Linked DNA regions of Homo sapiens. The protein of the gene in region 1 purifies or fractionates together with the protein of each later gene. This does not show direct contact. Each region holds a gene or a part of one and is shown on either strand. Other genes may lie near its edges.

Region 1 (3,823 bases):
AGGTTCTAGGACATGATTTGATGAAAGATAACATTAAGAAAGCTGTGTGACAACTGGATAGCATTTAACTTGTCTCTCACTCCCTACTCTGTGAATTCCCTAATGTCTTTAAGGCTCTTTTTTGCCCTCCATCCTGCCCATCAAGGAGTCCCTGACATGCTGTTCTCCATCCTGTTTCCTGTGGAGTCAAAGTGTATTTACAAATCTGCAGATGCACTAGGCGGGCAGGGCTGGAAAACACTGGCTGTATCAACAGGCAGCACTAGCATTCTGGGTCAGACTTGGCCAAAGCCCGTGACCAATTTTCTTCCTTATCTGTAAAGTAGGTGTAACCATCATAACCTTACCAAGACCACTGAACTATCTTGAGAAGAAAAATGAGATACGTTTAGTAACATGCTATGTAGTTGATAGGTATTAGGATAATACCACAACAATCTGGAACTCACATTTACATAATTTCACTTATCCAGTTGGGACCTAGATGGCAAATCAAGAGAAAGGTCATAAGTCCATGAGCTACAGTTTATGAATTTTGATCATTGGAGGAAATTTTATACCCTCTTTCAGGCCTCTGCATTTACTTCAAGTTTTAAGAGGCTTGGTTATTAGTTTGTCAAATGCACCTAGCAAATTGGAAGCAACTGATACTGTACTGTGCAAGGATTATTAAAGCTCTTTTATCAAGTATCAGTAAGAAGTAAGAGTAAAAAACAGAAAAACTAAAAAAAAATTTAAAAGGCACAAGAATTCAAGGCATGGAATTCTAAAGCTGATATGAGCATTTAATGTAAGCAATTCAGTGAAATTTTATGTATTTTGATGGATCTTTGGTACTCTGTTTTATAACATAGTAACTGATGCTCACAATGACCCACATGTATCCATAGAAGTTAAAATTATATTTTGTTCATCCAATTTAAAAAGACAGAGTTCTGAAGTATCCCCAAAAGATTTTTTTTTTTTGCATGATTCTTAGAGAAAAAACTGCAACTATCCATGATAATGGCACCTGTGAGGTTTCTGGATAGCCGGTGGCTTACTGGTCAAAATTATATTACAACTATAAAGCCCTGCTGTTGAAATTGAGAACTTTATGATCTTTTGTCAAAATTTATCAGGGAACTACTATGCTACTGTTATTATTAGTGGTTATGTTCTAACATTTAATACTAAAGAAAATATTCATGAACCTCAACCTGTCTTGTTATGATCAGGAAACACACTTAGAGTTGTTCCAACTTGATGACTTTAATTCTGGAGTTGGAAGAGACCTGGTGATGGAAAAGATGGAGCAGGAGAGGTAGACCCTACTGCTATCTGTTTCTTACATCTGTGTAGCAAATGTAGACTTACCACTACCCGGATGTTGTTCAAGCTGTCATGGCCACACCCTTATGGTAAGCAATGGTGTTTTTTCAGTTCAGACATCGTGCTGAAAACTGGAAGGTGGCTGAGATACACGAGCAGTGCCAAACTTGGCCTGACCCTCTGACAATGTGTTCAGTTAAAATTTGCTCCAAAACAAAGGCAAGAGGAAAAACAAAAGTAGAGGAAAATAAATGTAGACCCTTTTAAAATAGTATTTTAAAAATTCAATACATATGTGGAAAACGTGAGGACCTAACTAAAAGTCATGGAAGAGTATTTCTCAGTTTCTAGATGTACATACATTCATTGTTTTGGTAACTTACTTGAAAAAATTCTTTAACTAAAAGAAACTGTCAGTAACAGGTTATTGAATATAATCACAAATACTCAGAACTCTCCAAAGGTTCCCTGTATCTAATTGTAATATGATGGAGAAAAGGTATTCCCTGAAGTCCCAGAGGGCTTGGAAGGCAGAGGAGGTGAGGCATGGTGGTGGGAAGTGACTGAACCACACTATCCAGAGGACTGCCCTGTTGGGAGGTTTCACAGTTGGAAATATGTGCTTGGGAGGCAGGACAACAATGGAAGTGGTGAGTACATGACTGATGGGTCTCCCCTCCTCATTACTAAGTGTTTTTGAAATGCCAGGTGCAGCTGGAATTCTTGTGGATAAAGGGGGAAGCTTTATATCTAAATATGAAGTAGGGGTGATCTGAAAATGCCTTTCAGATTTGGGGAGCAAAGCCAGGGAGAAGTATAGGGAAGCTAGTCTCAGAAATCTTGAGATCTCTGAGCATCGGTGGACCCTTGAATTGGGGTTTAGGATCAACTTTTTAAACATGTGTTATGTATGAATAACTGAGATCCAAAGAAAAGCTAATAAACAAATAGTAGAAAGATATGGAAAAAATAAAAGCAGTGTTATAAACACACGATATGCTCCTCCGAATCTCAGTCACCAATTTTAGTCTATTGAGTCTTTCATTGGACTTCCAGGCTTAGCATTAGATGTTGAAACTATCTTAAGATCAGAGGAGCTGGATACAGTGGCTCATGCCTGTAATGCCAGCTGCTCAGGAGGCTGACACAGGAGGATCACTTGAGCCCAGGAGTTTGAGATCAGCCTGGGCGACATAGCAAGACCCTGTCTTAAAAAAAATAAAAATAAAATTATGGACATGGTGGCTCACACCTGTAATTCTAACTACTCAGGAGACAGAGGCGGGAGGATCTCTTGAGTCCAGGAGTTTGAGCCTGCCATGGGCTATGATCACATCACTGTACTCCAGCCTGGACAATAGAGCAAATATGTCTCTTAAAAACAAAAAGATCAGAGATGCCCTGATAAACATGAATTGATTGGATTTAAATAGAAGAAGAATTTTGAAATCCTCCTCCATCAAAATTCTACACAGTAGACGCTTGACATTTTCAGTGGATACATCTCAAGCCCTTGGCAAATCCCCAAGTTTGCAAATGCAGAAATATTTGCATAGGCTCTTGACTTCCTCCTGAATCAGGTTCCATTCCAGAGTGAAGAGGTTCCTATGACTATTCACAGGCTACCAATTATTTGCCTTTTCAATTTGCACTCAAGGAAATTAAGTTTCTTTCACCTCCAGAGAGTTTCTGTTTCCCTGGTGGCATCTTGGGATGGGGTTACTGGGTCTTTGAGAAGACTCCCTCTCTAGCTAAGTGACTTGTTCTTTGCTGTGGCTTTGCAACATACAGTTCACATTTGTGCTCCAGAGAAAAGACAAATTGCCATGTGGTGTGGCTATTAGGGGTTGTTCACAAATAACTGAAAAAGTGTTGAATCTACAAGCATCTGCTGGGTTTGCTAAAAAATTGCACATGTGTGCAGCCCCTCAAACTCCCCCCAATTCCCTGGCCCTCAGTATACACTTAATACAGTGTTAGAAACTTCCCCTGACTGTCAGCAAATCTTGATGAGGGGAATTGGGCATAGCACAGCTGAAGCGTCTGGTAAAGAACTTAAAATGAGAGCATCACCATTGAAATCTTAGCAAGAGAAGCAGAATGTAGTCATTTGCTCCATGCCCTCATTTTGAAGATTTCAAAGTTTGAGAAAAAAACCCACTATGATTATGATTGTATCAAATAAATGAGCCAGAGCATAATGTGCCCTGGAGGTTGGGCCTTGCTGTACCTCACTGGAAAGATTCTCACAAGAATGTTTTGGAGTGGTCTGGGGAGAAGCTCTTAGAATTTTAAGTGGGTTTAAGAGCACACCAATTACAATTGAGGAGAGCATCTTTGCCCAGCAACTAGAAAAGATATGGCAGGAACTGCAGCAATTTGATATGAGAGTTTCTTATTAAATTTGTGTTGTGACCATCTTTTGAAATAACTTTAATGAAATAGCCCCTAGATGCAAACGAATGCTTACAAACTGTGTAGAAAGGTCTAAAGAATAACATTATGACTAACA
Region 2 (3,823 bases), on another chromosome or scaffold:
GGGCTCAGTTGGGCAGGTTTTGCTGGTGATCACTCTAATGGCTGCTTTTCTCTCCAAGTAGCCTTTCCAGCAGAGTTGCTGGCCTTACCTGGTAGCTGATGGCTTAGGGCTCACAAGAGTACAAAACAGAAGCAACCAGATCTTTTTTTTTGAGAGGGAGTCTCACTCTGTCACCCAGGCTGGAGTGCAGTGGCTCAGTCTTGGCTCACTGCAACCTCCACCTCCCAGGTTCAAGCAATTCTCCTGCCTCAGCTTCCCGAGTAGCTGGGATTACAGGCGTGCACCACCATGCCCAGCTAATTTTTGTATTAGTAGAGATGGGGTTTCACCATGTTGGACAGGCTAGTCTGGAACTCCTGAGCTCAGGTGATCTGTCCGCCTCGGCCTCCCAGAGTGCTGGGATTACAGGCGTGAGCCACCGTGCCTGGTCTGCAACCAGATCTTCTTAAGGTTTAGACTTGTAAGGGATACAGTATCATTTCTGCCTTATTATACTGGTTAAAGCAAGTCACAAATCTAGCCCAGGTTCAAGGGTACAAATGTGTGAATCCATTTGGGGCCACCCATGTAACAGATTACCATAAATTTTATTTAAGTATAACATCAGCTTTACTATACCAAAACAGGACTTACGGAAAACTGTTTTGGAAGCTGAAGCTTAGGCAGCTTACTACTTTCCGCAAATCTGGATTTTGAGTCTGAGCATGCCACAGGGAAAGCTGAGTCTAAAAAGTGCAAATGACAGCACATCTGGCTTACTACGCAAATGGGAATACCTAGCACTCTCCTTGGTTAGAAAAGAGGAGAACATTTGTGGCCTCTGAGGTTTTTCCTAGTGTGCCACCATAATAGGGTAGGATTGACTTGCCTTCTGCTTGAGGGCAGTGGGATCTAACAAAGTACAGGACCCAAGAGTCCATGCTGCTTGGAAGTAGTGATTTACCCGATCTCGTGAATTGGAACAGACAGCATCCCATGCAGAAAATGGGCCACAGATGGGCAGAGATCGATTCCCTCTGCCCTTGTGATTGGATTTGAGACCTAGGGGAGAAGGGTTTCTTGACTATCACTCTGGCCTTGACCAGAGTGAGCAACCTGTCCCCCACGCGCTCCAAGCCCCAATGGCATTTTCTGTTTGCAGTGTCTTGAAAAAGCTTGGGATAAGCTACTCTTCCTTGGAGAGGTGTCATTATAGTGGAGAGAATTCTCTTTCCTTCTAGAGACTGGAATGGTAATCCTCTCTTATGGAAATACAATGAATAAGGTGCTGCTTCTCCTTTCCAAGAACAGGTAGATTCATTGATTGCTATCTGGGTTTTTCTCGCATTATCACTTAACCTTATCCACTATCGCTTTATTTTAGTCTTAGCAGTATTTTTTGTTTGTTTGTTTTTAGTTCAAGTTGGCTGCTAAGTAATGCCATGGTTAAAGGTGAAATGAAGAAAATGAGTGTTTAGTTTTTATTACATTATAGCTTCTGAGTGGAGTAGTGAATGCATTTCATTTTAAGAATTTAGGTTATTAGTGCATAGCTGCGAAGCATTTTTGAAGCATTTCATGTACACTAAAAAACGGGCCCCTGCATCCTAATGCAAATCTCTTTGCAAATTTCTGAAAATAGTACATTGGCTGTTGCGGGGAGGAGTTTGGTAATTGGATGTACTGAGAAACATGATTTATAGAAATAGGAAAGGCCAGGGCACAAAGAAGGGCACGGATAGAGTTACATGAAGGTGCTTCTTGATGGCTGTCCTCCCTACCCTAAATTATTTGGGTAGTTAAAAAATATCCTAGCATTAACAGAATGTAGGTATGATAGCCTTTTAGGAAACAAGGAAAACAAGTTCTTTTGATAGCTGTTCAGTATACTCATAAATCTGATTGACTGGGCTGGGTGGAAGCTGACTGTTGAGTCCTGACTTGAAATTAGGATACTGTGGTTACACATTAGCCCCAACTTGCCAAGATGTCCTACTTTTTGTCTGTGTTTAGTTAGACTGGGGAGGAGAATTAGTTAAATGAACCTGTTTTGTATAAAGTAGGATATTCTTTACCTTAGAAGTAAACAAACTAGATTGTTCTTCTCTTTTTAAGTTTTTAACGGTAGAGGCACTTTTGGCATACAGGTTAAGAGTCACAGTTTAAAGTCAGGCAGACCTGACTTCTGGTAGTATTGCTTAATGGCAGGATTGCCTCAGTTTCTTCTTTTGTAAAATGTAAAGAATACCATCCTTAATGGATTTTTGTAAGGATTAATTGAAATAATGTTTATAAAGCAGAAAGCATGGTGGCTAGAACGTAAGCCCTTAAATCATGTTTATTGCTCGTAATTCAGTATTATGAAGTTGAAAATTCAAACAAGTATTCACTTTGCTGTGAGCTACTCATTTCTCAAAGACAGTTCTAGCTTCGTTTTGGCATGGGCAGAGCTCCTTATCAAATTTCCACCCCCAGCTTTTTTTTGAGACAGGGTCTCCGACAGCTCTGTCTCCCAGGCTAGAGAGCAATAGTGTGATCATGGTTCATAGCAGGCTTGACCTCGGGGGCTCAAGCAATCCTCCCACCTCAGCCCCACAAGTAGCTGGGACTACAGTTACGCACTAACATGCTCAGCTAGTTTTTTTTTTTTTTTAGTAGAGATGTTGCCCAGGCTGGTCTTGAATTCCTGGGCTCAAGTGATCCCCCCTACCTCGACCTCCCATAGTGCTGGGATTTACAGGCATGAGCCACCAGGCCTGGCCAAATAAACAAAAAAAAAGTTGCTAAAAGGGTAAGCACGAAATCTGGGATACTGACTTAACATGGCTGGCAATATATCAGCTAGTGATGGTTTTGCTGTGCAGCCTGGGAACAAGAAATCATTAACACCATCATTAGATGAAATATTGTATTGACCAGTGTTTGTCAAAGCGCAATCCTTATATAACAGTCGTCTGGGATGCTTATTAAACATGTTGATTCTTGAGTATCCTTTGAGATCTCTGATATGGTCCTTGAGAGTGGAGCTTAGGGATCTTCATTTTTTGCAAATATCTCAAGAGATTTTATGCACATTAGTTTGAGAACTGTTGGTAGAAACTGAATTGGTTATTTGGGGTCCTAGTGTGCTCTGTCAGAGTTCATTTTTCTAGCTAGCTAGCTAAAATATTCCTTTTTTTTTTTTTTTTTTGAGAAAAGGTCTTGTTCTGTCACCCAAGGCTAGAGTGCAGTGGCAAGATCATGGCTCACTGCAACCTTAACCAACCTCCTGGGCTCAAACGATCCTCCCACCTTAGCCTCCCTAGTAGTTGGGAGTACAGGTGTGTGCCGCGACACCTAGCTAATTTTTTATTTTTATTTATTTATTTATTTATTTTAAGACAGAGTCTTACTGTCACCCAGGTTGGAGTGCAGTGGCGCTATCTCGGCTCACTGCAACCTCTCCCTCCCAGTTTCAAATGATTCTTGTGCCTCATCCTACCGAGTAGCTGGGATTACAGGTGCATGCCACCAGGCCCAGCCAATTTTTGTATTTTTAGTAGAGACGGGATTTTACCATGTTGGCCAGGCTGGTCTCGAACTCCTGGCCTCAAGTGATTCACCCGTCTTGGCCTCCCAAAGTTCTGGGATGGATTATAGCCATGAGCCACCGTGCCCTGCCTAATTTTTTATTTTTCTTAGAGATGGGGGTCTTACCTTATTTCCCAGGCTGGTCTTGAACTCCTGGACTCAAGTGATCCTCTCACCTTGCCCTCTCTCCCAATGTGCTGGGATTAAAGTTATGAGCCACCATGCCCAGCCCTCAAGTATTCTTTAAGTACACATGTGTAATGTAAATACAAAG

Evidence for each region.
Region 2: the proteins of HIVEP3 (region 1) and WWP1 purify together in Homo sapiens (affinity purification with western blotting, with the first as the bait; one study listed by BioGRID). This does not show direct contact.

Annotation. Positions count from the first base shown.
Region 1 is NC_000001.11:41,912,280-41,916,102, reverse strand, and holds part of HIVEP3 (transcription factor HIVEP3), read left to right. Parts: intron 1-3,823.
Region 2 is NC_000008.11:86,348,889-86,352,711, forward strand, and holds part of WWP1 (NEDD4-like E3 ubiquitin-protein ligase WWP1), read left to right. Parts: intron 1-3,823. UniProt on the Homo sapiens protein: E3 ubiquitin-protein ligase which accepts ubiquitin from an E2 ubiquitin-conjugating enzyme in the form of a thioester and then directly transfers the ubiquitin to targeted substrates.